4 separate regions of the Homo sapiens genome follow, and all the other regions are reported to be linked to region 1. The links are microRNA targets in miRTarBase. Many come from high-throughput screens and were not tested one by one. Region 1 holds a microRNA gene; each other region holds the end of a gene's coding sequence.

What was found. The annotated mature microRNA hsa-miR-3192-5p reads UCUGGGAGGUUGUAGCAGUGGAA and lies in region 1 at 4,874-4,896, shown strand. An mRNA with a match to its seed (bases 2 to 7 or 8) in the 3' UTR can be bound and repressed. Matches are read on the target gene's strand: a 7mer-m8 pairs with bases 2 to 8, a 7mer-A1 pairs with bases 2 to 7 and ends in A, and an 8mer does both.
Region 2: the mRNA of RGS6 is a reported target of hsa-miR-3192-5p. Seed matches in the 3' UTR shown: 7mer-m8 at 1,706-1,712 and 7mer-A1 at 4,014-4,020.
Region 3: the mRNA of ZNF726 is a reported target of hsa-miR-3192-5p. The part of its 3' UTR that is shown has no 7-base or 8-base seed match.
Region 4: miRTarBase lists TMPRSS12 as a target of hsa-miR-3192-5p. The part of its 3' UTR that is shown has no 7-base or 8-base seed match.

Annotation. Positions count from the first base shown.
Region 1 is chr20:18,465,751-18,472,873 of GRCh38, forward strand. MIR3192 (microRNA 3192) reads left to right here and starts at 4,865; the gene lies at 4,865-4,941. It overlaps DZANK1 (double zinc ribbon and ankyrin repeat domains 1), which reads right to left and starts at 1,280. Exons shown (of 21, transcript NM_001367614.1): 1 at 1,246-1,280. POLR3F (RNA polymerase III subunit F) reads left to right here and starts at 1,640. Exons shown (of 9, transcript NM_006466.4): 1 at 1,640-1,818; 2 at 3,194-3,311; 3 at 7,092-7,123. The coding sequence starts at 1,757. RefSeq lists enhancers at 1,160-1,778, 1,401-1,720.
Region 2 is chr14:72,561,849-72,568,971 of GRCh38, forward strand. RGS6 (regulator of G protein signaling 6) reads left to right here. Exons shown (of 18, transcript NM_001204424.2): 18 at 569-4,682. The coding sequence ends at 619. Among named protein-coding and RNA genes, the nearest start is that of MIR7843, 49 kb to the left of the region's middle.
Region 3 is chr19:23,933,343-23,940,465 of GRCh38, forward strand. It overlaps ZNF726 (zinc finger protein 726), which reads left to right. Exons shown (of 4, transcript NM_001244038.2): 4 at 1-1,142. The coding sequence ends at 625. Among named protein-coding and RNA genes, the nearest start is that of ZNF276-AS1, 21 kb to the right of the region's middle.
Region 4 is chr12:50,886,519-50,893,641 of GRCh38, forward strand. TMPRSS12 (transmembrane serine protease 12) reads left to right here. Exons shown (of 5, transcript NM_182559.3): 5 at 744-1,366. The coding sequence ends at 995. Among named protein-coding and RNA genes, the nearest start is that of TMT1A, 35 kb to the right of the region's middle.

The DNA of each region.
Region 1 (7,123 bases):
CTTGGCTTCAGGGCAAGTCATCATACAAGGGGAACAGAAGTAATTCTGTGTGTACCACAAAATGTTAGTTAGAGCTAACTTTTTTGGGAAAGCTCCGGGTTCACAGCCTTGCCATTATCACCAGAGCAGTTCTAGTATTTGAAAGCTGCAAAGACACTTTAGAAGGACTGCAGAGTACTACTTCTCAGTGGAAAGGAAGTTTGCAAGAATATAAACAGTGACCAATAAACACAAGCCTCCCGTTTCATCTACTGTATTTATAAATCCTGGTATTAATAATTAACTACCAGTATGAAAGCCTTACTGGTCTTTTTGGAGGTGAGGGTGGGGAGGAAGGTTGTCATAATTAATGCACAGAAGGTTTCAGGGGGAAAAAACGCTCACCTTAACACAACAACCATTTACATCTCTGTATTGCCTTTTCAAATTTCATTAATAATCCATAGATTTTGCCCAATTATAATCTACATATTCATTCCATTTTTATAGTCTACTTCTTGCATTCTCACTGTATTATTTAGTTTTCCCTGTACTTATTTATCCATTTGTGGCTGGGCATTTAGGCTATTTCTAGTTTCTTTTTAGTTTTGCCTGTTGCAGTTCTAATAATGCTGATCTGAACATGTCTGCAGTTTGAGCTTTGTCACAGACTGTATTCTCAAAAATGGGGTACCTAAATTTAAGGGGTGAACTTAATGCCTTGTTGGATAGTTCCGGATCTAGGGCCAAGAATATAAACTACAGATACTGACAGCACAACAATAGCTCCTACGGGAGTGTGGCTGGACTTGAGACTTGCCCATAGTCGCATTTCCATTTAAGTGAAAGGCAGATAAAATAAAAGTAGTTGAAAAATTCTAAATAAAAAATATGTAGGAGAGGAAGTAATTCGCGAGCGTCAACTAGCAGCTGCCCTTAGGAAGCTGGGGTGGCCAGTGGGCCCCACGCAAAGGGAATCAAGAAAAAAGGCGGATCCGCCAGGCCCAAATGGCAACGTGCAGTCAACAGGATCCCCAGACCCCTCAACTCTCCCAACGTGGACCGCCCCCTCGCAGCCCGGATCCGGAATCCCGTTTGGTTGTTCCCGCCCATCAGGGGCTGCCAAGGACACCTGCATCCTTTCGGCTGGAGTAAGGGAAGCTCTTCCCCTCCTCTAGCCGCCCTCCTCTTCCTCTAACCGCGGGGCCCGGGATCGGGACCCCTAATGCATCTCTGCCGCGCCCAACCCAGTCGCCAGCCTCTCACCGCCTCTTGCCTCCTCCTTCGCCGCCGCCCGGGTTACCACAGACGCGGCGAGCCGCGCCCCGCCCACTGGGTGCTGGGCAGATGATTGGTGGAGACTCAGCTTCTTAGCAACTAGACCGGCCCCTGCCGCTCCGCAGGGAGCCTGGTACCCGCCTGGAGTTCCTTTCCCAGTGCTTTCCCATAGGCATCTAAGAATATTCCTTCACAGAGTTGCCAAGTGCTAAAAGTTGGTTTCCCAACTCAGAATGAAGGAACCAGGCTTGTGCGTCCGATGGGCATTGACATTCTGGAAAACAAGAATAAGAAGCTGTAGCGGCGCCTGTAAGTGGGCCGGAGCAGGCGCAGCTTGGCCACCTCCCGCCGAAAGGCAAGGAAGGACCGGCTGCGACACGAGGAAGAAGGCCCCTCGGCCTCAGCAGAGCGCTATCCTCCACTGGTTCCCCGGGTTCCCCGGCTTGCTACCGGGCTGCTCCGTGCATCTTTCCCCCCAGGCGTCAGGAACTGCGCCCTCATGGCGGAGGTGAAGGTGAAGGTGCAGCCGCCTGACGCGGATCCGGTCGAAATAGAAAACAGGTAAACCAGTGAGGCTCCGGCTTGGCACTCCATCAGGCGCCCAGTCATTTGGGCAGCTGGACCCCTTCTCCGGGATCCCTTGGGAGTGGCCGGAGCGGGTTAGGTGAGCACGCGGGAAAAACGATTGCGGGGTTCTGGACCCACTTGTTCCTTCCCATCCTGGGAGAGCAGAACTCAAGAAGTTCAAAATGGGTTTGACAGCTTGCAACTTTGTGTAGCTGGCTGGCTTTGCCCTGATACTTTTGGGGAAGTTGTGATGACGTGCTGCCTTCCTACTTTGACGCGATCAGTGCTTTGAGAGGAGCCCTCGGCTTTCTTTCCCTGTAGAACACTTGTGAATACATGTTCTGATCCAGGATCGCTCTTGTCACTAAGGGAACGTCTATGACAAAACGTTTAGGCGGAGTTAGGGCGCAGTTGGTGATTACGAAGTAACATTAAGCCAGGTGGTTTCAGTGCAGTATTGAACTCAAGACTTTTAGGACACCCAAAGCCTCTGCCACTTTTATTTTTATTTGTTTGTTTGTGAGACAGAGTCTCGCTCTGTCGCCAGGCTGGAGTGCAGTGGCGCGATCTCGGTTCACTGCAATCTCCGCCTCCCGGGTTCAAGCGATTCCCCTGCCTTAGCCTCCCGAGTAGCTGGGACTACAGGCTCGCGCCACCACGCCCAGCTAATTTTTTATGTTTTAGTAGAGACGGGGTTTCACCATGTTGTCTGGGATGGTCTCGATCTCCTGACCTCGTGATCCGCCCGCCTCGGCCTCCCAAAGTGCTGGGATTACAGGCGTGAGCCACCGCGCCCGGCCCAGTTTTATATTTTACCGAGGCACTGCCACTCTTAGATTTTCACGTAGTTTTAAAAGACTCAACTTTCTCAGACTGTTAGGAATAATACATTTGTTGATGTCGACTAGGTGAAGATTTTGACTTTTTTTGTTTGGTAGGTATAATTCCAAAAACAGGCCCCATTATGGTGAATTGTCATAACAAATTTTGGCTTCCTACCAGAAACATCTGCATTTGCCTCCTGCTTGCAGATTTATGGCTTAACTTTGTCATGCTTATTACACCCGAGAAAACTGAAGTCTCAGCTTTAATATTTTTTCTGTGATTTCATTAGACTTTTGCTCTAATTTAAAGTTCTTATTAGTGAGGAAAAGAAATATTCTTAAATAACAATAATACTGTAAACATGTATTTAGAAATCATCTTCTTCAATTTCTAACATGCTTTGATCCAAAACCATCACAGAAACCCAGATTGTCTGCCAAATGTGAAAAAGGCACAGTTTCAAACTATTCTACTTGTATTTTTACCCCCACTGTCTCTTGAAACAGGTAACCATGAAGGATAACATTAATACCTTTGTTTCTAGGATTATAGAATTATGTCACCAGTTCCCTCATGGAATCACAGACCAAGTAATTCAGAATGAAATGCCTCATATAGAAGCCCAGCAGCGGGCAGTAGCCATCAATAGGTTGTTGTCTATGGTAAGGTGAATCTAACTATTTTGCATAATTACTGATATGCTGATTATCACTGGTTTTTATTATGTAGTTGTGATGGTTAATTTCATGTCAACTTGACTAAGATACAGGATTCCTACATATCTAGTTAAATATTTTATTGGAGTGTCTGTGTGGGTGTTTCTGAAAGAGGTTAGCATTTTGAATTGGTGAACGGAGTAAAGTAGATATGGGTCCAGTTGGGTGAGCATCATCCAATCCATTCAGGGCCTAAATAGAACAAAGTGGCAGAGGAAGATTGAATTCACTCTTTGAATTCAATCTTGAGCTGGGCTATGAATCTTGTGCCCTCAGCACTCCTGGTTCTCAGACCTTCAGACTTGGACTGGTATCTACACCATCAGCTCTCTGCTCTCAGCCCTTTGATCTGCAACACCAGCTTTCCTGGGTCTCCAGCTTGCAGAGGGCAGATGATGGGACTCCTCAGCCTCCATAATCACAGAGCAAATAGCTTCTGATGAATCTTTCAAGAGGGAGGTGTATCCTATTGGTTCTTTTTCTCTGGAGAACCCTAATACAGCAGTCATAAAACGAGAAAGTGTGTTAGGTTTGACTGATAAGACTCTAAACCAGGAAACAGCTCAAACTACCTGAATTGAAAAAAGAAGAAATAATTATGCGTTATAAGACAAATGAAATAAATGTATTATGGTATAACTGTTGTATTTATTAATTGCCACTGCCATACATAGGTCTAGTCTGTTCTCACCTTCTGTTTGCTTCCTACTGCTGGTGTTGGGCCATTTCCCATAAAATATTCCACCCCCCGATTTTCCTATGAGTTGTCACAGAGCCCAGTCATCAGGGTTTCATTCTCCACATTGTCACTCTGAGCATTTCAGGAAGCAAGAATGAGTCCAGTTGAATGAAGAATGTTGGGCTTTGGGGAGGAAGTGCAGCCTTAGCCCCCAGTGACATTGCAATGGAATTTATCAGTGAAGCCATTCTCCATCTGTCCAGAAACAAACAAGCAAGACTGTCTAAAAACCCACCAAGTGGTGCCGATGCTCTAAATCTCCCTTACTTTCCCTCATCACCAAAACATCCTTTTCCTAAGAGCATTTCAGTTTGGCTTTAGTAGCAGTTAGGTTAAAGAGTTCTACGCCAAGGCCTCATCTGAATGACTGATTTGTTTTTTAAGTCTACTAGCCTTGTTGGATTTCCAAGGGCTCTGGATGTGGAGATTTGGGGTCCGATGAATCTTTTCTTAAACCTTTCCCATCAATTTTCTAGCTCAGGAGTTGGCAAACTTTTTCTATAAAGTGCCAGACAGTATATGTTTTAGGCTTTGTGAGCCATATGATTTCTGTCACAACTACACTGTCATTTTAGCAAGAAGCAGCCATGGATGATGATACATAAACAAATGGCTACAGCCATGTTCCAACAAAACTTTGGTTATAAAAACAAGCTGTGGAGCAGATTGCTCACCCCTGTTCTAGCCCAAGGACAAAGGAATGTTGCTGATTTCTAGTTATTTCACTGTGGTGAAGGTCTTCAGCTCTAGGAAAGACAGAGGAAGGGATTCTGGGAGGTTGTAGCAGTGGAAAAAGTTCTTTTCTTCCTCTGATCGCCCTCTCAGCTCTTTCCTTCTGACTGAAAATCATCTTCAGCACCTCTCTTTTACCACCTCTGCCACCACCCACCCACTGCGAGTCCTATTGGCTATAGGTTGTATGCAGGCAGTAGTAGAGCTATCAAAGGATATTAAGAAAGGGAGTGATTATTAATAAATCATGTAATGTTTCTGATTTTAGCTCTTAAAAACAGTTCTTAAATTTGCTGTCCACACCCCCTCCATTTCTATCCCTGGTACTGCATCATGTTCAGGCTCATGGCTTTTACCTGGACAGCTGCAGTAGCATCTTAACTGGTTTCCATGACTCCATCTGTCTCAGAGAAGCCAGCCTGATTTGGGATTACAGTCATGAGCCACCGAGCCTGGCCCCTGATCTGTCTTAAATGCAGGTCTGACCAAGGCACTCTACCACCTACAATTTGTTTATACTGGAGATTCAAGTTCAAACTCCTGGGTTTCCCACACTGAGTCCCTGCATTGTTCACCAGCCTCATCTCCACCACTCTACTTCAAAAGTTAGGTTTCAGGAGGAGCAGATTGTTTTTGGTTTCTGGCCACATCATGCTGTTTCGTGCCACAGGACTCATGTTGTTCCCCTGCTTAGAAGGTTCTTCTTATTCTTTACAGATGACTAACGCATTAGGACTCAACTCTGCCATTGTCTCCAGGAAGTCACTGAACCCCCCCAGGTTGGGCCGCAGCCTGTTCTCCGAGTACCCAATCTGGGAGTTCAGGGTGGCTTTACTTACCTCTATCTTAATGCCAACCAGATGGGTATTGAAGTCACCTGTGTGTTTCCCTTTTAGAATTAATGTTGTTCCCCCAAACACCTATCATAACACCTGGCACAGTACAAGTATTCAGTAAATATTCATAAGCTGGATAAATGACCAGAGCCTCTGGATTGGGCCTTGTAGTCCTACTTTGCCACTTCGTGGGGTCAGGGAACAGGAGTGTGTCACTGTTCATTCAGTATGTAAATCCATTTCCAAGTCATGAGTGTCTGTTTTAAAACAAGGGAATGGGCTGGGCACAGTGGCTCCTGCCAGTAATCCCAGCACTTTGGGAGGCCGAGGTAGGCGGATCACTAGAGGCCAGGAGTTCAAGATCAGCCTGGCCAACATGGCCTAACCCTATCTCTACTAAAATACAAATATCAGCGTGGCATGGTGGCATACACCTGTAATGCTAGCTACTTGGGAGGCTGAGGCACGAGAATCGCATGAACCCGGGAGGCAGAGGTTGCAGTGAGCCGAGATTGTGCCACGGCACACCAGCCTGGGTGACAGAGTGAGACTCTGTCTCTAAATAAATACATAAATAAACAAGGGAATAGCGTCCCTCTCAACTGTGGCTTTCTAGTACTTCCAGAGCCTAGTGGTATAATTATCTGGGTTCTCTTAAGTTCGGACCCAAGGAAATTCAGGAGCATGACAGACATACTTTATTTTACTTTTGATTTGCTATATAAAAACAATACTACTCTAGTCCTTTTATTCATTGGCTGACTTCAGTAAATGTCACTGTTAACTTTTTTTGTTTTTTGTTTTGTTTGTTTTTTGCTTTTCAAGATGGAGTCTTGCTCTGTTGCCCAGGCTGGAGTGCAGTGGTGCGATCTCAGCTCAGCCTTCCATGTAGCCGGGACTACAGGCGCATGCCACTGCACCTGGCTAATTTTTGTATTTTTAGTAGAGACAGGTTTTCGCCATGTTAGCCAGGCTGGTCTCAAACTCTTGACCTCAAATGGACCACCTGCCTTGACCTCCCAAAGTGCTGAGATTACAGGTGTGAGCCACCACGCCCAGCCATTAACTTTATAAATTTTATTTTTCACTGTGCAACAGAATATGCCTATTTAGTCTTTATTTCAACTTTTTATTTATATAAATTATATTTTTATTTTATATATGTAATTTGGATTTATATTGATTTTTAATATAGATTGTTATTCTCAAGCTGCTTTTTAAAAATTCTTTATGCATTGATCATATAACCAAGCCAAGATCTAGCCTACAGGAAATTGTTAGTGATATTTTGAAAAATTTTGAGATTAAAGAGCAGGTTTTGAAAAATTAAGAATGTTAAAGAATGCATCAACATTTGTCATTTGATTTAACATATCTCCAAAATAACTGACTCCTGTTTTCTACTGTCTTAAAAACTAGGGTCAGTTGGATCTCTTAAGGAGCAATACGGG
Region 2 (7,123 bases), not on the chromosome of region 1:
GCAAATGCCCCCCACTTTCATGGTCCCAGAACTGGTCATCAAGAGGACTCAAGGTCTTTGTGTCTACCCTGCATTCCAAACAGGACTCTGCCTTCTTAAGACTAGTTCATTCATTAGCTTCTGATCAGCCAGATCCTTGGCCACCCTCTATTTGAGTCAAGCCCCCGTCCCTGATCTCAGAACACCCCAAGTCCACCTTTTCCTCCCCCACGTGAACAAAATCAATTTCAGGGCAGCCCGCCGGCATTAAAAATTGCTCTACCTAAAGGTTTAAATACCTGGTTTTTGGTAAGTAAAATTCCCATACCACAAAAAGAGTACCAACAACACACCCTCATAAGGGGACCCTCCAGGACTCCCTGAACCTTCCCTGGAGCCCTGGTTTCTCCAGCTGTCCAAAGTTAAGGCTCCCATACACCTAGAGATCAAATATCAAGATGGTCAGTTGGGTTGGTTGGTCGTTTGGCCTACATGGCTCATGCAACAATTAATTCACCTGTCTGGCTCTCTGTCTCTGTCCCTCTGTGTGTGCGCCTGTGCGTGCCTCTCTGTCGCTGTCTCTCTGCAGGGAAAGTCGCTGGCGGGCAAGCGCCTCACGGGCCTGATGCAGTCCTCCTGACCGTTCCTACCGCAGGTCCAGGGCCTGGGCCCGCGGACCCCACAGGCAGGCGGCGGCGCTCCACATCTGCGGACAGAGTTTCCTTACGAGGAGACTTGGTCACTGTGAAGGAGAAAGAGTGAGGGCAATGAAGGGCGATGGTGGGGAGACTCGGTGGGTGAATGGGGAGACCAGAAAGAAAGAGTCCACAGAGCCTGGGCTGGGCCCGGTGGAGGCTCCTGTTTACAGCCCTCTCTTCTTTGTACAGTTGTATTCCAACACTCCACTCGCTAAGAGGCCCTGATCCCAGCTCATTCAGGGGAGAACACGTCGTGGGGTTCCTGTCACGACTATCACTTGAGATTATATTATTATCCTCACTCCCTCGCTGTCTGGAGACGGTCACACCTTCTGGCAAATTCAAGAGGCATGAGTGGACCGAGAGCACATCCAGCATTTGCATCACCTCCCTGGCACCTCCCATAGTTACAGCCACTACATCCCCACCGCCGCCTGTCATCCCTCACGTCTCTGTGGCCACCCGGGTGTCACTGCCAGCACCAGGCACTGCTTTCACGTAAAATGTCCAAATCACATCTTCAGCAAGAAAGCAACCTCACGGATTGCCCCGCCTCAAGGTCTTTCCACCCTCTTTGAGATCAGCGTTCGGAGAGGTCCCCGCCAGCCCGGTGGCTGCCCTCAGGTCCCGTCACATGTCTCAAGGGTCCAGCGTTCGAGGAAGCACTGTTGTAGATGACAGAGCTTTTTGTTTCACAGCTGCGGGGATTCTGCTGACCATCTTTTAGAAAATTATTTCATAATTTATTCTGGCTTTGCCCCCTTGCTCCTTGGTTTATTCCCTCATGTTTTACTCAAAATAAACATGGCCATGAACTCAGGGGCCATTGGGATTCTCCCCTCTGGCAGCCCCAGGTGGGAGCTGGGAGGGTCCCCAGCCCAGGAGGTGGCTGGATTGCAGGGCTGGCAGCCCCCACGTGGTGGCATCCTGACAGGCACAGTGAGACCCTTGCTGGGTCAGGTCTCCTTTGTGTGTGAAGCTGGGGCAGAGTATGCTACGAAGGGACCAGGCCAGGCCACAGGGCTCTCCTCCCAGTCTTTATCTGAAGGCCCAGCCAAAGCACCCCTCTAAACCGGTCACCTAGGGGAAATGCAAAAACCTGCAAAAGATCCACCTGTATTCCCTGTGTGTGTGTGTCAAAATGACCATTTGCCAACCTGGCTGTGAGGTAATGTATGTAAAGCACCGAGTCAGGTGCCTGATACGCAGTAGGTGCTTAGCAAACGGTAGCTAATACTATCATCATTGTCATTGTTATTGTGACACCCATGAGCCCACAGACAGAGCTGTATTAAGTAACCTGTTTTGAATCCAGACATTCACTCCCCCACTTGCTATGACTACCCTCCTTTGATCTATTTTTGGTCATAGGTAAAAAAAAAAATCTCTCTTGGGAGCATATAAACAAAAAACATAGAAGCAATAAAGCGATCGCTGGTATTTCTTTTCTCATGCAGCCAAATTCGCCAGCTGGTGACCAAAGGCTCAGATGCTTGCTTATTTGCAGACCCGGCCTCCTGGGTGCTCCCCAGTGACCCATCTTTCCACCCCACCACCTCCAAGTCCTGTCTATGTCTGCTTCCACACAGCCCTGTCCCCAGGGCACCAGCCTTCTGTCCCTCACAGCAGTGCCATCGCGGGCATTAGGAGTCTTCGTTATGTTGTATCCTTGTGAGTTCTTGACTACCATGCCCAAGTTTCCCCCACTGGCAATGGTTCCTCTCTTGGAGGTACAGTGGAAACCAGAGAGATGACAGATGTTGAGTCCTCAGTGTCTCAGAGGCAGCAATTCTTGCTGGACACCTGCACATGCTCAGCACAGAGGCTGGTACTTTGGAGGCACTAACCACTTGATGAGTAAATCAATGGCATAAAGCCCCATTCCAAGTTATGGGGTCTTTTGACAGGCCCCTTTCATCCTCTTTCTCTTTGTATAAACCTCATGTTTCAGAACAAAATTACAGTCTAAGTTCATTTGCCCCCAGCCTTGCCCAAGGATCCCCGGGCTGTGCTGACCCCTAGGCATAGGGCAAAGGGTGTTCCCAAGCAGCAGGCACCTCAGTGCCCTCAGTTATCCAGGGCAAGGGGCCTGGCTGCCCCCTGCTCCTCCCCATGATGCAGGGGCTTTCTAAGCCAGGCTGCAGACAGGGCAGGGTTGGCTTCTTGGCCATTCCCTCTGTGCCCCCTTCTCCTTCTGACTGGTCTCACCCTGGAGATCCCCAGAGGATCTGACCAGAGCCAGGTGGACTGTGGCCCTGAGATGGAGCTGGCTGCAGGCTTACAAGCACCTCTGGGGACATCCAGAGGGGAGGGTCAGTAAGCACAACGGAGCTAGGGAGACTTCAGATGGACTCAAACCCAGAGCAATAATACTCTCACACCACCCCACAGCTAAGGCACTCATGTTCCCCAGTAGATCAAGCCAGAAGCTTTGCAAGAAGGGAGTGGAACGAGGCTGCCTATCCAAGGTCCATCTACCACGCAGAACTTGGTCATGCAAGTACATTTGGAAAATCTGGTCTTGGCCCGTCCCCCATTGGCCTGGTCTACACAGCCAAAAATTCAGACTAGATTAGATGTTTGCAGGCAATTCTGTAGCAAAGCAAATTCCCCTACCCCGTCCCTTCCCCCTAGAAGCTGCCTTAGCCTCCCTGACTGGGTGTGGTCTCTGGGCCTAGGACTCCTCCCTATGAGGAAAAGTGCTCTCCAGCCACATCTTGGCAGCCCCACAACCACAGCATCAGGGCAGCTGCAGCAAGTGACCACCCACCCGTCGGGTTAGACACACAAGGCACCAGGCACTGGCATCTGACTAAAATAACCTTTCCCTACATGGGAAGAGGAAAGCTTGTAGGCTGGCACATATAAACGTCCAGCCGCAGCCAGATGGCCTGAACTAAGCAGCAGGAACTCTCTGGGCTGGGGAGGAGCCTCCTGCCCTTCTAGAAAGTGATGCGTCAGCTTTGTTCTCCTGGGAAGGTGTTGCTATACCCCAGGAACAAAGCAGGGCCCAACTGCCAGTGCAGTCAGCTGGGCCTGCGCTCCAGGCTCACCACCGCTAAGTGGTCAGGTACCGGGCCAGCATCCTGGGAGGGACCTCTTGCGACTCTGAGTTGCAGCTTGGACTAGCTGAACACATGGGGACATGCTCCAGGGGCTTCTTCCCTGGCAGGATTCCTGGGATTTCAAACTACCTCACCAACAGGACGCTGAACCAGGAGCCTGCCACCCAACTGGCCCCCTTGGTGATTGTGGAAGGTGATGTTTTTCCTAAAATGCATCCCTCCTGTTCTGCTCCATATACATGTGCTTCAAAAACCACCACCAGGAAAGCCTTCCCAGAAGAGGGAAAGGATTAAGGGCTCTCTTCCTTTGGGCCCTGCAGAATGTATTGGAGGGAGGTGTTGCTGCAAGGTCCAGGAGCTGGGAAACTCTGGGCTCGGGGGGAGATAATGCACCACCAGCCTCAAAAAGGAGCTGCCCAAGTTGAATATGTAGCAAAGACCATGGGATAAGTTGAATAGTGGCCAGACGAATCACTAATAACTCACCATGGGACCCTCTGAAGAGAGGCCTGTGCTCGTGTAACCATAGCAACAGCAGATGCCAGCAACCTACTCATTAGTACCACCCAGTGATAAGGCATCCCCTGGGCTAGACCCAGGGGCCATAAAGTAGCAAAGTAGCAAATGTAGCAATAAAGGGCCCGGGTCTATACGGGGACAGGGTCCAAATGACCAGGACTTGGCCCTCTCCCCAGCCCCGATGAGGGCTCAGAGCCAGCTGCTGTCAGCTGTCTGGGGAGGGAAGGCCCTGCTCCATACCAGGGGTCCCTGTTCTATACTCTAAGCCCACTCACCGCATGATCACGGACTCATCGGAATGGCCTCCTCTTAGTGCATGTGGTTCTCTTTAGTTTATTTTTCTGGAATTTGGGGATTGGACCCCAGAACCAAACATGCTGGTACAGTCTAAAAATAAATGACTTGAACCCACTTCAATCCAGCTAACTCTGTGTGGCTCCTTGGTTTGGGGGTTCGTTGGGCAGGATGTACCTCTAGAAAAATCGACCACCCCTCCCCACACTCCACCCTTCCCCATTATCACACACACACACACACACACACACACACACACACACACACACACACACACACCTGTTTCCTTCTCACTCCCAACCAGGCTGCCAGGCAGCACAGAAAAACCAGATCTCTGGGGCATTGGACTCATCCTGGTAGGTAGAGACAGTGGTGTCACCATAAGGCTGAAGTCCCTGACTCTGCCAGGGTCTCCTTGGCTGGGGGGTTCTCCAGACCCCATTGTCTGTACTCAGGTGCAAAACCCTGTGGCTGCTCTGACACCCTCTTGAATAAGATCCCAGGGTCAAAGTCTGCTGCATACAGACGGTGCTTCTTACACAGAGTCTCGGTTTCCTGAGCGACAGACAGTTGCACTTCCCACTAACGCCAAAGCAGCTGGACTCTGAGAGCCTGAGCGTCAGGCTGACAAGAGGAGGATGAGCGCAAGGTAAAAAGGCAGTGCTAGTGTACTGCAATCCCTCTATTAATGAGAAAGCCAACACCTAGCTGCATACTTCAGTGGCAGAAATTTTGCTCCTAAAGGTAGAAATGATTTCAGAGGCATGAAAATGGGACTCCAGTCACAGCTAGAAGGGAACCAACTCATCTTTCAATCCCTGGGCCACCCCCTTGTGCAGGATTTTCTGCCCCACAGAGTTAAGATCAAGTCACATCTGCCTCAGGTCCATAACATGTCCCACCTCACGTCCTGGTCCATCCCCAAAAGAGCCTGTCCTCTTTGACCATGGCCACCACCTCCAGGGAACCCAAGCTGCGCCTGCCTTCTCAGCTGGACCATCTGGCTTAGTTCCAGAATCTTTGCTTATCGGGCTGTTGCTGTGCATGCACTCTACCCTGACCGCCACGAGCAGGGCTCTGCTTTCAGGTCCAGAATCAAGATGGAGATTTGAGGCTACCAGTTATAACACAAAAAGCTGTGCCGGTCCAAGAATGAGAGCCATCCTGACAGCTGCCTCTCTCCCTACACCCTTCTGGGGACCTGTGGCATAACAGGCATGAAGCTGTCCTCTCCTTTGCTGCCAGCCTCCAATTGTTCATTGATCCCAGCCTCTGAGGAACCACCAGGGCCTCTGATGAGTGTCTCTGATCCTAGAACTTTTCCTGGGATGTGGCAACCTCCAAACCCAAGTAGTTCTCTGAGAGGCATATCCCCTCCTGGGCCCACAGAGCTCTGCCCAGCAGGCTCTCCCTCCGCCACCCTTCCTTCACAGAAACACCCATATGAACCCCTGACCCCCGTCGTGGGACTTCCGACACCTGCAGCTGGGCCCGTTCCCTGTACACAGCCCTTCAGCGCCCACAATGGGGGTTACTGGATCTGCCCCAGACCCCATACACAGAGGAGCAGGGCCCCCTGGCCAAAAAGAGGCTGTGGAATCTGGCTTATTTTAAAGGGGCCTGGGGTGTCGGGTGTAGCCACGTGAGCTCCATCTGTCACAGAGCTCTCTGGTACGCTCTTCCTCGCTTGAAGTGTGGGCTCGGTTCTCCTCCTCAGAGCCCTGAGGTGTCTCCTGGCCAGGTCTGGCTTATTTCAGCAGACAAAACGAAGTAACAGCCCCTGAGTGCAGAGCCCCAGAGCCACCCTCATTCTGAGCCTTAGTGTCCTCATTTGTGAAACAAGAATGAGAATTTCAAAATCTTCGGGTGGCTGTGAATTAATCTAGAGGGCTTAGCCTGGGCCTGACACATGGTAAATGTTCACGAAATGGGTGCTGGTGTTAGCTGGAGCCATGTCTGAGATAGGCATTGAAAGGCGGTGAAGGGAGGGTATGTTTGCAAATCCCTGCCAGACGGACAACTTCCCTGGCAGCCTGGCCCCTGAGAGCTGCCCTTCCCGCCAACCTCGAGGCTGTAGGCTTTGTTTGCCTGTGTGGGCAGCGGCCTCTCTCTGCCTCTGACAAGCCCCTGGCTCCCTTCTTCCCAGTGAGGACCTGGTTCCCTGTGTGTCACTTGGGTGGCCTCCATCAATAACCCTGCATTAGGCCTGAGAAACAGCAGAGTGGCGGGCCGGAGGCGCCCTCCCCAGACCCCACATGGAAAATGGAAACAGTGCAGATTCCCGCTGCCCATCTAGATCCCCGTTTGTCTGACGGACCTCATGGCTACTTCCGTGAGATTTGGACTCTGAGCTCTTGTTCCAAAATACTCAATTTCAGGCCAGTGACTCTGCCCTCTGACCTAGGACAAGGACCTGCCTCCGTCCTCTGAGAACACCTGGCGTCCAAGGGAACACGTGGACCTCCACGGGAGGGGCAGCCTCGTTCCTACAATTTCCAACCAAGAAAATAAAGCCTGGTTCTTCTCTTTCTCCCATTACATCACAGGATGGCTCTGGGTTAGGAAGGG
Region 3 (7,123 bases), not on the chromosome of region 1:
CTCAAATCTTACTAAACATAAGATAATTCATACTGGAGAGAAACCTTACAAGTGTGAAGAATGCGGCAAAGCGTTTATATGGTCCTCAAACCTTACTGAACATAAGAAAATTCATACTAGAGAGAAACCCTACAAATGTGAAGAATGTAGTAAAGCATTTAGCCGATCCTCAGCCCTAACTACACATAAGAGGATGCACACTGGAGAGAAACCCTACAAATGTGAAGAATGTGGCAAAGCTTTTAGCCAGTCCTCAACCCTTACTGCACATAAGATAATTCATACTGGAGAGAAACCCTACAAATGTGAAGAATGTGGCAAAGCATTTATATTGTCCTCGACCCTATCTAAACATAAGAGGATTCACACTGGAGAGAAACCCTACAAATGTGAAGAATGTGGCAAAACTTTTAATCAATCCTCAAATCTTAGTACACATAAGATAATTCATACTGGAGAGAAACCTTACAAGTGTGAAGAATGTGGAAAAGCGTTTAATCGATCCTCAAATCTTAGTACGCATAAGATAATTCATACTGGAGAGAAACCTTACAAGTGTGACGAATGTGGCAAATCATTTATCTGGTCCTCAACCCTTTTTAAGCATAAGAGGATTCATACTTGAGAGAAACCTTAAAAAGGGTAAAGAATGTGGCAAAGCATTTATATGGTCCTCAACGCTAAACATAAGAGGATGCACACTGGAGAGAAACCCTACAAATGTGAAGAATGTGAAAAAGCTTTTAATCCTCAAATCTTACTAAACATTAGATAATTCACACTGGAGAGAAACCTTACAAGTGTGAAGAATGTGGGAAAGCTTTTAATCATTCTCAAATCTTACTACACATAAGATAATTCATACTGGAAATAAACCCTACAAATGTGAAAAATGTGGCAAAGCATATGGTCCACACCCCTAAGTAGACATAAGAGGATGCACACTGGAGAGAAACCTTACAAATGTGAGGAATGTGGCAAAGCCTTTAAATGTTCCTCAACTGTTACTGAACATAAAGTAATTCATACTGAAGAGAAACCCTACAAATGTGAAAAATGTGTCAAAGCCTTTAAGCAGTCTTCAATCCTGAGTAACCATAAGATAATTCAAACTGGAAAGAAACCCTGCAAGTCTGAAGAATGTGGGAAATCTTTCTTTTTTTTCCATTGCACCTTTATTGTTTATTCTGTTCACTGTTCAGAATTTTCATACAGTCTTTCTAGAATCAAGAAGGGTGTACAGTGGTATTCCTGTGGCTTTCTCTCCTCTCCAGCTCCTCTCTTGTTCAGCAGCCTCCGGACCCCCAAGGGCTAAGGAATCAGACACACCGGGTTTGGATCCTGACTCCACTAGGAGCCATGTGATCTCAGGGATATTTCTTGATCTCTCTGAGCTCTTTTTCCTTTTTCTGCAATGTGGGGAAAAGGCTCCCTCTCTCACAGAGTTACTACCAGAATTCAATGACTCCAAGTATCCAAAGCATCTGGCACAGTGCCTGGGCACACAGTATGCCCAGATGCACCTTAGCTTCCTTCCTTCTGGCAGGGAAAAGATACCTGATAAAGCCAGAGCCAGCTGCTTAGGGGCATTTGCTTTATAAAGAGCCTGGTCCCTTTAACAGAGGCCAAGAAATGACTCTCTAATGGTGGAATTTCAGACACCATAGCATGGGTGAGGGAGAGATCTGGAGGCATAGACTATAGAAGTCTCAGAATCATTTGAATCCAGCCAGGCAGACTGCTGCTGCTTCTGCCCAGGGGCAAGGCTGGTGATACAGTTTGGCTGTAACCCCACGCAAATCTCGTCTTGAATCCCCACATGTTGTGGGGAGAGACCCAGTGGGAGGTAACTGAATCACAGGGGCAGGTTTCCCATGGAATGTGGGAAATCTTTTAACCTGTCTTCAACTTTTATTAAACATAAGGTAATTCATACTGGAGTAAAACTCTACAAATGTGAAGAATGTGGCAAAGTGTTTTTCTGGTCCTCAGCCCTAACTAGACATAAGAAAATTCATGCTGGACAGCAACCCTACAAATGGGAAAAAATTGGCAAAGCCTTTAACCAGTCCTCACATCTTACTACAGATAAGATAACTCATATTGGAGAGAAATCTTACAAGTGTGAATAATATGGAAAGCCTAAAAAAGTCCTCAATTCTTAACAGATATAAGATTATTCATACTGAAGAGAAACTCTACAAATCTGAAAGATGTGCCCAGTGCCTTTGACAGCATCTCAAACTTTTCTAAACAAAATCATGCTGCTGACAAATCCTAGAAATGTGAAGAATGTGACAAAGCCTTTAAATGATTGTTGCACTTCATTGTATGTAAGATCATTTATACTGGAAAAAACTACCAATGTGAACAATGTGGCCAAGCTTCTAACCAATGCTCATAGCTTATTGCACCGGTAAGCATTTATATTTGAGAACAAATGTACAAATATAGACAAAGCAAAAAAGCCATTAATACCTGCTCACATCTTACTCAAAATCAGAGTTCATACTGAATAAAAGCATTAAAAATCTAATTACCGTCAAAAGATCAGAAAATATGTCTTTAAAGTGCAGAAGCATATTTATTTTGAAAAAGCATTACAAATATGAAGAGGGTTGTAATACATTTACTTGTCTCACAGATCTTATTGTACACATTTTGTACTAGAGGAAAACCCTGAGGCAGTTATTAAAATTTTGTTCAACATCAGGGAGTTTATATTGAAGAAAACCCTGCAAATGTAATGAATTTGGAAAAACATTTTTTCAAAAACTACAAATTATGAAACACCAAAGCGTTCATACTAAAATATATTTTTGCAGATGCATTAAATATGAAAGATGTTCAATCCAAAATTAAGTCTATGTAAATATCAGGGAATAATTCACAGTAGAAATATTTAGGGCACTCAAACTTTAGACATTACACTAAATCAGTGCTGAGTATAGGAAATAATACAAACTAAAGTTCGTGTAAACATTATTTGTATATAACTTTAAAAGAAGAATATTTTTTGGAGAGTTATAATTACAATCAAAGTATAACTTTTTTTTGAAAATACAGAATTTTAAAAAAGCAAATAATGGAGTTAAACTCTTAAATTACTTCATGCTGTTCCATCATTCCTGGTGTATTCACATGTGAAAACATGTGACTAATTGTAGCTGCATTAAAGATATGAGAGATTCTTTTTTATTAGGTAGGCCTTTATGACTTTTTCTATGGAAAGGTAAGGACATTAAAATGTAAGATACATGATGAAAATTTAAGTAGAGAGGCTCTTTGGGTTAACTTGTAATGTTGAGTGATGCATGAGGTAGGTGTTCAGAGTAATATTTTTATGCATTATCATGAAAGAAAAACTTTTTTTTTTTCATGGCAGTTTGATTTTTATTTTTATTTTAATTTATTTTTTATTTATTTATTTTTTAAGGTCACAGATCAACAGGATCCCAAGGCAGAAGAATTTTTCTTAGTACAGAACAAAATGAAAAGTCTCCCATGTCTACCTCTTTCTACACAGACACGGCAACCATCCGATTTCTCAATCTTTTCCCCACCTGTCCCCCCTTTCTATTCCACAAAACCGCCATTGTCATCATGGCCCGTTCTCAATGAGCTGTTGGGTACACCTCCCAGACGGGGTGGTGGCCGGGCAGAGGGGCTCCTCACTTCCCAGTAGGGGCGGCTGGGCAGAGGCGCCCCTCACCTCCCGAACGGGGCGGCTGGCCGGGCGGGGGGCTGACCCCCCCCACCTCCCTCCCGGCCGGGGCGGCTGGCCGGGCGGGGGGGCTGACCCCCCCACCTCCCTCCCAGACAGGGTGGCTGGCCGGGTGGGTGGCTGACCCCTCCACCTCCCTCCCGGACGGGGCGGCTGGCCGGGCAGGGGGCTGACCCCCACCTCCCTCCCAGCCGGGGCGGCTGGCCGGGCGGGGGGCTGACCCCCCCACCTCCCTTCCGGACGAGGTGGCTAGCGGGCGGAGACCCTCCTCACTTCCCAGATGGGGTGGCTGCTGGGCGGAGGGGCTCCTCACTTCTCAGACGGGGTGGCTGCCGGGCAGAGGGGCTCCTCACTTCTCAGACGGGGCGGTTGCCAGGCAGAGGGGCTCCTCACTTCTCAGACGGGGCGGCCGGGCAGAGACGCTCCTCACATCCCGGACAGGGTGGCAGGGCAGAGGTGCTCCCCACATCTCAGACGATGGGCAGCCGGGCAGAGACGCTCCTCACTTCCCAGATGGGATGGCGGCCGGGAAGAGGCGCTCCTCACTTCCTAGATGGGATGGCGGCCGGGCAGAGATGCTCCTCACTTTCCAGACTGGGCAGCCAGGCAGAGGGGCTCCTCACATCCCAGACGATGGGCGGCCAGGTAGAGACGCTCCTCACTTCCCAGATGGGGTGGTGGCCGGGCAGAGGCTGCAATCTCGGCACTTTGGGAGGCCAAGGCAGGCTGCTGGGAGGTGGAGGTTGTAGCAAGCCGAGATCACGCCACTGCACTCCAGCCTGGGCACCATTGAGCACTTGAAAAACATTCTTTAGTTAACATTAAGTTAGTAGTATGTTACTGTACTTTTATGGAATAATATACAGTATATTTTTAAATTATGTGTGAACTTAACTTTTCAATTCAGCATTTTTAACATGTTAAATACTATCATGAATTCATTGAAGCATTATGCCACTAACTTTAACCTATTCCACCTTACTCAATGGTGTAGGTAAAAGATGGTAACAATACACTATTTGGTAAGATAATGGACTGACATCTCTAGTAATCTTTTTGTCAGTGGCTTTAAATTGCCAATAAGTTAAAGAATGTTGTTCCTATAGGTTAAATTTTATTCTTATTTTTACATTTAAATTTATTTTTCTTAATTTTTGTGGATATGTAATATGTGTATATGCTTATGCCATATATGGCATATTTTGATACAGGCATGTGATATATAATCTTAGATGTAAATAAATTATGGAGTGTGTTTGTGTTAGTGTAAGTTTGAAACTATTTTTAGCCAAAAAAAAGTAATATTGGAACAAAATAAATCATTTTAAGAAGGTGTCTAATTTACTAGAAAAAAACCAAAATTCTCAAAATTACTGAAAGTAAATCTATCCTCTGTACTTTGTATTAAATTTATTACTGTATAACCTTTTGGCTTATGCTTCAGAATCTCCCCATGCAAATTCTCTGTTTTAACTTGACTGTTACTCATGTTAGAACCATAATTTTGTTTGTTCGTTTAATAGTTTTTTTTTCTTTTTTTTTTCCTTTTTTTTTTTTTTGAGCTGGAGTCTTGCTCTGTTGCCCAGACTGGAGTGCAATGGTGTGATGTTGGCTCATTGCAATCTCTGCCTTTCAGGTTCAAGCAGTTCCCCTGCCTCAGCCTCCCAAGTAGCTGGGATTACAGGTTCCCGCCACCAGCCCAGCTAATTTTTGTATTTTTAGTAGAGACAGGATTTTGCTATGTTGGTCAGGCTGGTCTTAAACTTCTGACCTAAGGTGATCCACCCACATCAGCCTCCCAAAATACTGGGATTACAGGTGTGAGCCACCGTGCCTGGCCTGTGTGTAATAGTTTATGAAATATTCATTATGTGAGCTGGTCTGTAAGTATAAGAATGATTTTTTTTTTAATTTCATTGTTCCATTTATTGGGGTACAGGTGGTGTTTGGTTAGATGAGTTAAGTTCTTTAGTGGTGATTTGTGAGACCCTGATGGACCCATCACCTGAGCAGTATATACTGCACCATATATGTTGTCTTTTATCCCTCCCCCTTCCCACTCTTCCCCCCCAAGTCTCCAAAGTCTATTTTATCATTCTTATACCTTTGCATTCTCATATCTTACCTCCCACATATCAGCAAGAACATATGATGTTTGGTTTTCCATTCCTCAGTTACTTCACTTAGAATAATAGTCTCCAATATCATCCAGGTCATTGCAAATGCTGTTAATTTCTTTTTGTGGTGAGTAGTATTCCAACATATATGTATATGTCATAGTTTCTTTATCTGTTTGTTGATTGATGGGCATTTTGGTTGGTTCCACGAGTTCAAAATTGTGAATTGTGCTGCTGGAAATATGGATGTTCAAGTTTCTTTTTCAAATAATCAGTATTTGGGTTTATTTCTGGGTTCTCTGTTCCATTGGTCTATATTTCAAATAATGACTTCTTTTCCTGTGGGTAGATACCCAGTGGTGAGATTGCTGGATCAAATGGTAGTTCTACTTTTAGTTCATTAAGGAATCTCCCCACTTTTTTCCATAGCGGCTGTACTAGTTTAGATTTCCACTAGAAGTGTAGAAGTGTTCCCTGATCACTGCATCCACGCCAACATCTACAGTTTTTCGATATTTTGATTATGGCCATTCTTGCAGGAATAAGGTGGTATGGCATTGTGGTTTTGATTTGCATTTCCCTTATCATTAGTGATGTTGAACTTTTTAAATGTTTGTTAGCCATTTGTATATCTTTTGAGAATTGTCTATTCATGTCTTTGGCCCACTTTTTGATGGGATTTTTTTTTTTTTTTTTTTTCTGACTGATTCGTTTGAGTTCACTGTAGATTCTGGATATTAGTCCTTTGGCAGATGTATAGATTGTGAAGATTTTCTCCCACTCTGTGAGTTCTCTGTTTACTCCGCTGACTGTTTCATTTGCCATGCAAAACCTCTTTAGTTTAATTAGGTCCCAGCTATTTATCTTTGTTTTTACTGCGTTTGCTTTTGGTCATGAAATTTTTGCCTAGCCAATGCCTAGAAGGGTTTTTCCAAGGTTATCATGCAAAATTTTTATAGTTTCAGGTCTTAGGTTTAAGTCCTTATTTCATCTTGAGTTGATTTTCATATAAGGTGAGAAATGAGGATCCAGTTTCATTCTCCTACATGTGGCTAGCCAATTATCCCAGCACCATTTGTTGAAAAGGGTGTCCTTTCCCACATTATGTTTTTGTTTGCTTTGTTGAAGATCAGTTGGCTGTATTTGGGTTTATTTCTGGGTTCACTCTTCTTTTGGTCTATGTGCCTATTTTTATACCAGTACCATGCTGTTTTGGTGACTAGAGCCTTATAGTTTGAAATCAGGTAGTGTGGTGCCTCGAGATTTGTTCTTTTTGCTTAGT
Region 4 (7,123 bases), not on the chromosome of region 1:
AATCTAAGTGAATTGCATTCCTAGGCCAAACATCCTCATCATCAAAAAATAATTATTCAATGCCTGCCTTATATAGAGAATCGGAAACAGTTATCTCAGTGTCCTTGTTGTTTTCAGTGCATTAACAGGCCTTAGTAACAGCATTTGGGTGCATTCCTAATTTTGTATAGACTATGAAAGTGACCTGTCATTTATAATACTACTGAGAGGCTTTGCCATTTATGCTCATTTTCCTGCACTAGCTATTGTCAACACTTAGAAACTTGTCTTCTATTGCAAGATGCCAGTTTACTCCTCTCCCTGGCAAGCAAACCACACACGTGCCTAAAAGAATCCTTCATACATCTTAAAGTTATCCTTTCCACACGCAGTATTCAGCAAGAGAATATTCTAATAATAGACAGTTTTGACAATATTTTGCACACTTCCTAAATTATATTTCTCCTAAGTAATTATATTTAAAAATCCAAACAATTTGATTTATAGTATTCTGGCTCAAAACCAGGCAGATGAGAAATTTATCTACCAGCTATATGGTTCCTCCAAATACCTGGGTAAAATTGAATTCCTCCTGTTTGAGTTGGAAGTTTAAGCTCAAAATCTAGTGATCTTTATAAATTGGGGGTATATTGAAAATGTGTATTTATATAAATGTATGTTTGATGTAAATAATTTATTCCAGTGTTACTGTTGCTTGAAGAATACTAGAAGTAACAAACACTATTTTGGGACTTTTTTGACAGGGTGACAGTGGGGGACCATTAATGTGCTACTTACCAGAATATAAAAGATTTTTTGTAATGGGAATTACCAGTTACGGACATGGCTGTGGTCGAAGAGGTTTTCCTGGTGTCTATATTGGGCCATCCTTCTACCAAAAGTGGCTGACAGAGCATTTCTTCCATGCAAGCACTCAAGGCATACTTACTATAAATATTTTACGTGGCCAGATCCTCATAGCTTTATGTTTTGTCATCTTACTAGCAACAACATAAAGAAATTCTGAAGGCTTTCATATCTTTATTTTGCATTGTGTCCCTTTCTATGTTCTATATAATGAACATCATTTATTCTTCTAGCAATTAATTGCCTACATTAGAGATTTCATGTGAACATTTTATGGGCTATAAGTATTGTGACAGATATACAATTGTAATTTTGGCACTGAATCACATGTCTCCTTGAAATATCTTGATTATTTTATAATCATAATTCTGTATCTGGAATACTCATAGAGTTTGTACAAAATATTCAGTTAAACATATATTTTATGTGTATAAATGCCAAATAATAGTTTATAATTAAAATGAAAGCTGTCATTTGGTTAAATTAATAAAAATTCTTTCTTAGATTTTATTCTAAAAAATGTTTGTATGATTTTTTTAAATTATAATCTTGTTTCCAATTCTCAAAGTATATTTAGAGAAACAAGTATTTATCTGTTATTTAAATTCTAATTAAAACCATTTATTTAATATCAGTACTTCATTTCCTCTGCCAAGAGAGCTATGGTATACACACCCCCAAATAATTTACTTTTTATTTAGAAATTTATGACTTTTTTTCAGGAGTATAACCTACTTTCTAAACTTTATTTTCTTGAAGCCCATGCTAAAATTTTGTATCCCATGGGGCCTCTGAATTAACTGTGAGCAGCAACTGGAAAGCATGCCGGGTAAAAGAGGGACGCCAACCTGGGATAAACTTTATGATAACTAATGTATAAAATGAATTAAAAGAAACAAAAGAAAATGAGGGCCAGGCATGGTGGCTCTCACCTGTAATCCCAGCACTTTGGGAGGCCGAGGTGGGCAGAATCACTTAGGTCAGGAGTTCAAGATCAGCTTGGCCAACATGGTGAAACCCTGTCTCTACTATAAATACAAAAATTAGCGAGGCATGGTGGTGCATGCCTGTAATCCCAGCTACTTGGGAGGCTGAGGCACGAGAATTGCTTGAACCCGAGAGGTGGAGGTTGCAGTGAGCCAAGATTGCACCACTGCAGCTTGGGCGACAGAGCTGGACTCTGTATCATACACACACAAAAAATGAAACAAAAGAAAATGTTGATTGAATTATATCTACTATTAGTCAACTCTCATTTCCCTTGAACTTAGGAGAATCCATTTAGCAAAGGAGAAATAGTTATTTTCTTATCCTTCTTTTTACATTCAACATCTAAAACCAAGTGTTCTTTGTTGTTGTTTTGTGTCAACCTAATTTCAGGATTTAAATGAAATTAAGCATGAATATCCCATGTATTAATTTCTTTCATTACTGGTTTGACACTGGGATTATTGTTTATTGGTTTAATATTGGGTTAATGTTGTTTAATATTAACATTTAATATTGGGTTAATATTGCTAATATTGGGATATTGTTTATTGGTTTAATATTGGGGTTATCTATCCCACTCAAGGAATATATGACTATGCTTTTTATAGACGAAGCAACACTGATGGAATGTTGGTTGTTCTTTCTTGAAAGAGCTCCTAGTTTATCCATCGACAAGGTCTCACAGATGGTAATGCTTATATAGCAATTAGCATGATGCACTAGTCTTTTCCTATTTATACTACCTGAATATCACTCAGATTCACTTGAAAGCTCTGAATGTTAATAAAAAGAAATTCTTCTAAAATGTACTGCCAGAATTAGAGGAGAAACCTTTGCTTTTCACTTTAAAGGCATCTTCTAATTACTCTTTAGGTTTACGTTTCTTATCTATGTATTTATTTTGGAGGTGGAGTCTCTCTGTTGCCCAGGCTAGAGTGCAATGGCACAATCATTGCTCCCTGCAGCTTCAATCTCCTGGGCTCAAGCAACCCTCCCACCCCAGCCTCCTGCATAGCTGAGACTACAGGTGTACCCCACCACATCCAACTGTTTTTGCATTTTTTGTAGAGACAGGGTTTTACCATGCTGCCTAGGCTGATCTTGAACTCCTGGGCTCAAGTGATCTGCCCACCTCAGCCTCCCAAAGTGCTGGGATTACAGGGGTGAGCCACCACTCCCAGCCTAGGTTTACAATTCTATTCTTTTTTTTTTTTTTCCTCCTTTTAATTCTAATCTCATGACAGATTAGATTACATTTCTGATCGGGGAGAGCTATTATCTGCTATTTATCTTTTTGCCCAGCTTAGTTTACTATGTCAGCCAGCTGGAATCCAATTATAAAATTTCTCTCTATCACAAGAAACTACCAGAGTATAAACTTTGGAAATCTAAGACAGACTTTGTTTCAACTTTTGTTTTAACATTGTGTCCTTTTTTTTTTTTTTTTTTTTTTTAAGAGGCTCTGTCACTCAGGCTGCCTAGGGTGCTGTGGCATGATCATAGCTCACTCCTGGGCTCAAGAAATCCTCTGGCCTCAGCCTCCCAAGTAGCTAGGACTATAGGGCCCAGACCACCATGCTCAACTAATTTTTAAATTTTTCATAGAGATGGAGTCTCACTATATTGACCAGGATGGTCTTAAACTTCTGGCCTCCAGCCATCCACCCACCTCAGCCTCCCAAGGTACTGGAATAACATACATGCACCAAGTTGCTTGGCCTTTGTTTCCATTTTCACTCTGTTATTTAGTATCTATAAAAGTTTAGATAATTATTAATACCTATTTACAACATTGTTGTGATGACTACAAAAGTTGAGTATATGAAATTCTTAACATTTGAAAGATGCCAGTAACAGGTTTCTATTATTATATTAATATCCCATCTATCATTCACACACTCTTTCTCATTACAAAGATCACTATCCTATTGGATGTCTCATATATCATCCCCCAAAATTACTGAAACAAAGGATCCTTTTCTGCTTATAAATTCAAATTTTAAAATATGCTATTTTAAAAATAATTTTCATAATTCCCCAAATATTATATCCTTATTATTTAAACTGAGAAAGGGCCAAGCATGGTGGCTCATGCCTATAATCCCAGCACTTTGGGAGGCCAAGGCAGACAGATAGCTTGAGCCCAGGAGTTTGAGACTCCTGGGTGAAACCTCGTCTCTACAAAAAATGCAAAAATTAGTCAGGCATGTTGGCATGCGCCTGTAGTCCTATCTACCTGGGAGGCTGAGGTAGGAGAATCACCTGAGCCCAGGAGTTCAAGGCTGCAGTGAGCCGTGATCACACCACTACACTCCAGCCTGGGCAACAGAGTGAGAACCTGTCTCAAAAATAAATAAATACATAAATAAAATTGAGAAAGCACCGACAAGTAGAAAGAAAATCATCAGCTGAGCGTGATGGCTTACACCTGTAATCCTTGGGAGGCTGAGGTGGGGACAGATTGCTTGAGCCCAGGAGTTCGAGACCAGCCTGGGAAACATGGCAAAACCCCATCTCTACAAAAAGAATTAAATTAGCCAGGTGTGGTGGTATGCCTGTAGTCCCAGTTACTGCGGAGGCGGAGGTGGGAGGATGCTTGAGCCCAGGAGGTAGAGGATGCAGTGAGCTGAGATCATGCCACTGCACTCCAGCCTGGGTGACAGAGCCAGACCCTGTCTCAGAAGAATGAAAAGAAAATCATCCATAACCCTATTATGTAAAGACAGCTGCCATGAAATCCTACCTTTTTCAGTTACTATAATGGGTATTTTTACAAACCTTTATTAAACATTATTTTACCCCAACTATTTTGAAAAATTTCAAACCTACTGAAAGTTGAAAAATAGTACTATGATTACCTGTATATACTTTACCTTTTTCCCCCAAATATTAACATTTTGCCGTTTACACTCATACTCTCTCTCTCCAAACACAAACACACACAGACTTACACAGACATATTATACACACACAAACTCTCTCTCTTTTGTTTTCTGGTTGAAAAATTTGAAAGTAAATTGCTGGCATCATGTTACTTCATCCCTAATACTTCAGCATGTATCTCCTAAGAACAGTGACATAATCACAACACCATCATCACACCAAAGAAATTTAACACAGATTTGTTCTATTTTATAAATTGTGCACTCATTTCTTTGGTTTATTAATCTATTGCATAGATATTCCATTATTTTATATTGTTTCATTCTGATTATAAAAGTACAGTATATGTTCACTATAAAGAAAAAGCACAACTATTACAGAAACTATTTGGGCTGCTATAACAAAATATAATAAAATGCTGGCTTATAAACAACAGAAATTTATTTCTCACAGTTCTGGAAGCTGGGCAAGGCGCCAGCTATTTCGGTGTCTTCTGAGGTCCCACTTTCACCTTCACAGAAGGCATCTTCAAACTGTGTCCTCACATGGCAAAAGGGGCCAGGCCACTCTCTGGAGCCACTTTATAAAGGAACACTAACCCCATTCACGAGGGCTCCATTCTCATAATGAAATCACCTCCCAAAGGCCTCACCTCCTAATAGCATCACATTGATGATTAGCTTCCCAACATGAATTTTAGGTGGCCACAAACATTCAAATCATAGTACTTTTTAAGTAAAATTTTAGGAATTAAGTCAAAACCACAGACTGAACACATGTTCTAGCCACCTTCCTGTTCCACATTCCTAATTTGAGAGTATTATATTTATTTTAAAATCAGTAATAGTATTTCCTTAATCTATCCACTGGAAAGGCCTAGATGCAACAAACAACCAATAATAACATGTACCCTAGCACCCAGATTCTAGTCTCTCAATGTCATTCCCCTATAAAACGATCCAAGGCTCCTTAGAGATATGAATGATTTCAGGTCTAGGGCAGGAAATATATGGGATAAATCTCAGATAAATCTTTGATAACATGGAAGTTATCAAAGACTAGATAGTCAAACTGCTTTAAAAATATTGAAAACAGTCACTAGAAGGTGGGGAAACAAATTACATATTACGATATAATGATATTATTGATTGACTTCTCATCAGACACAATGGCAACCAGAAAAAATCTGAGTGACGACCAGGCGCAGTGGCTCACGCCTGTAATCCCAGCACTTTGGGAGGCCAAGGTGGGTGGATCACAAGGTCAGGAGTTCAAGACCAGCCTGACCAACATGGTGAAACCCCGTCTCTACTAAAAATAAAAAAAATTAGCCAGGCATGGTGGAGTGCACCTGTAATCCCAGCTACTCAGGAGGCTGAGGCAGGAGAATCGCTTGAACCCAGGAAGCGGAGGTTGCAGTGAGCCCAGATCGCACCACTGCACTCCAGTCTGAGTGACAGAGCGAGACCCCATCTCCAAAAAAAAAAAAAAAAAAAAAAAAAAAAAAAAAAATCTAAGTGACATATTCAAAGTGCTAACAGAGAAAAAACAATTATTAACACAAAATTCCATATCCAAAAAAATTAATCTCCAAAAAATAAAGGTGAACAAGGACATTTTCAGATAAATGAAAACTGAGAGAATAAATTGCCAGCAGACCTGCATCGTCAAAAATGCCAAAGGAAGTTTTTCAGACTGAAGGGAAAGGACACAGGGTGGCACCTTGCATTTACAGGAAGGAATATGACATGAGAAATCTTAGTGGGTAAATATAAAGGACTATATTTCTTTTCTTCTCTTAAATTACTTAAAATACCTATGACTATTTAAAGTAAAAATTATGACACTATATTGTTGAGTTATAACATCTGTAGATGTAAAACATATAATAATGATAAGAATAAATGGAATGATATTATTTCAAGGTTCTTTTATCTAAAATAATTTCATATTAATGATTATTAGATTGTAATAAATTCGGATGCATGTTGTAACCTCTAGCAATCAGTAAAAATAAAAAAGATGTAGCTGAAGACCTAGTATTTGATAGCACAACAGGGTGATTATAGTCAAAATAATTTAATTGTATATTTAAAAATAACTTAAAGAATATAACTGGATTGTTTATAACACAAAGGATAAATGCCTGAGAGGATAGATACCCTATTTTCCATGATGTCATTATTACACATTGCAAGTCTGTATCAAAGTATCTCATGTACTCCATAAACATATATACCTACTATGTACTCACAAAAATTAAAAAGGATGTAGTTGGCCGGGCGTGGTGGCTCACGCCTGTAATCCCAGCACTTTTGGAGGCCGAGGCAGGCAGATCAAGACATCAGGAGATCGAGATCATCCTGGCTAACAAGGTGAAACCCAAACGCCATCTCTACTAAAA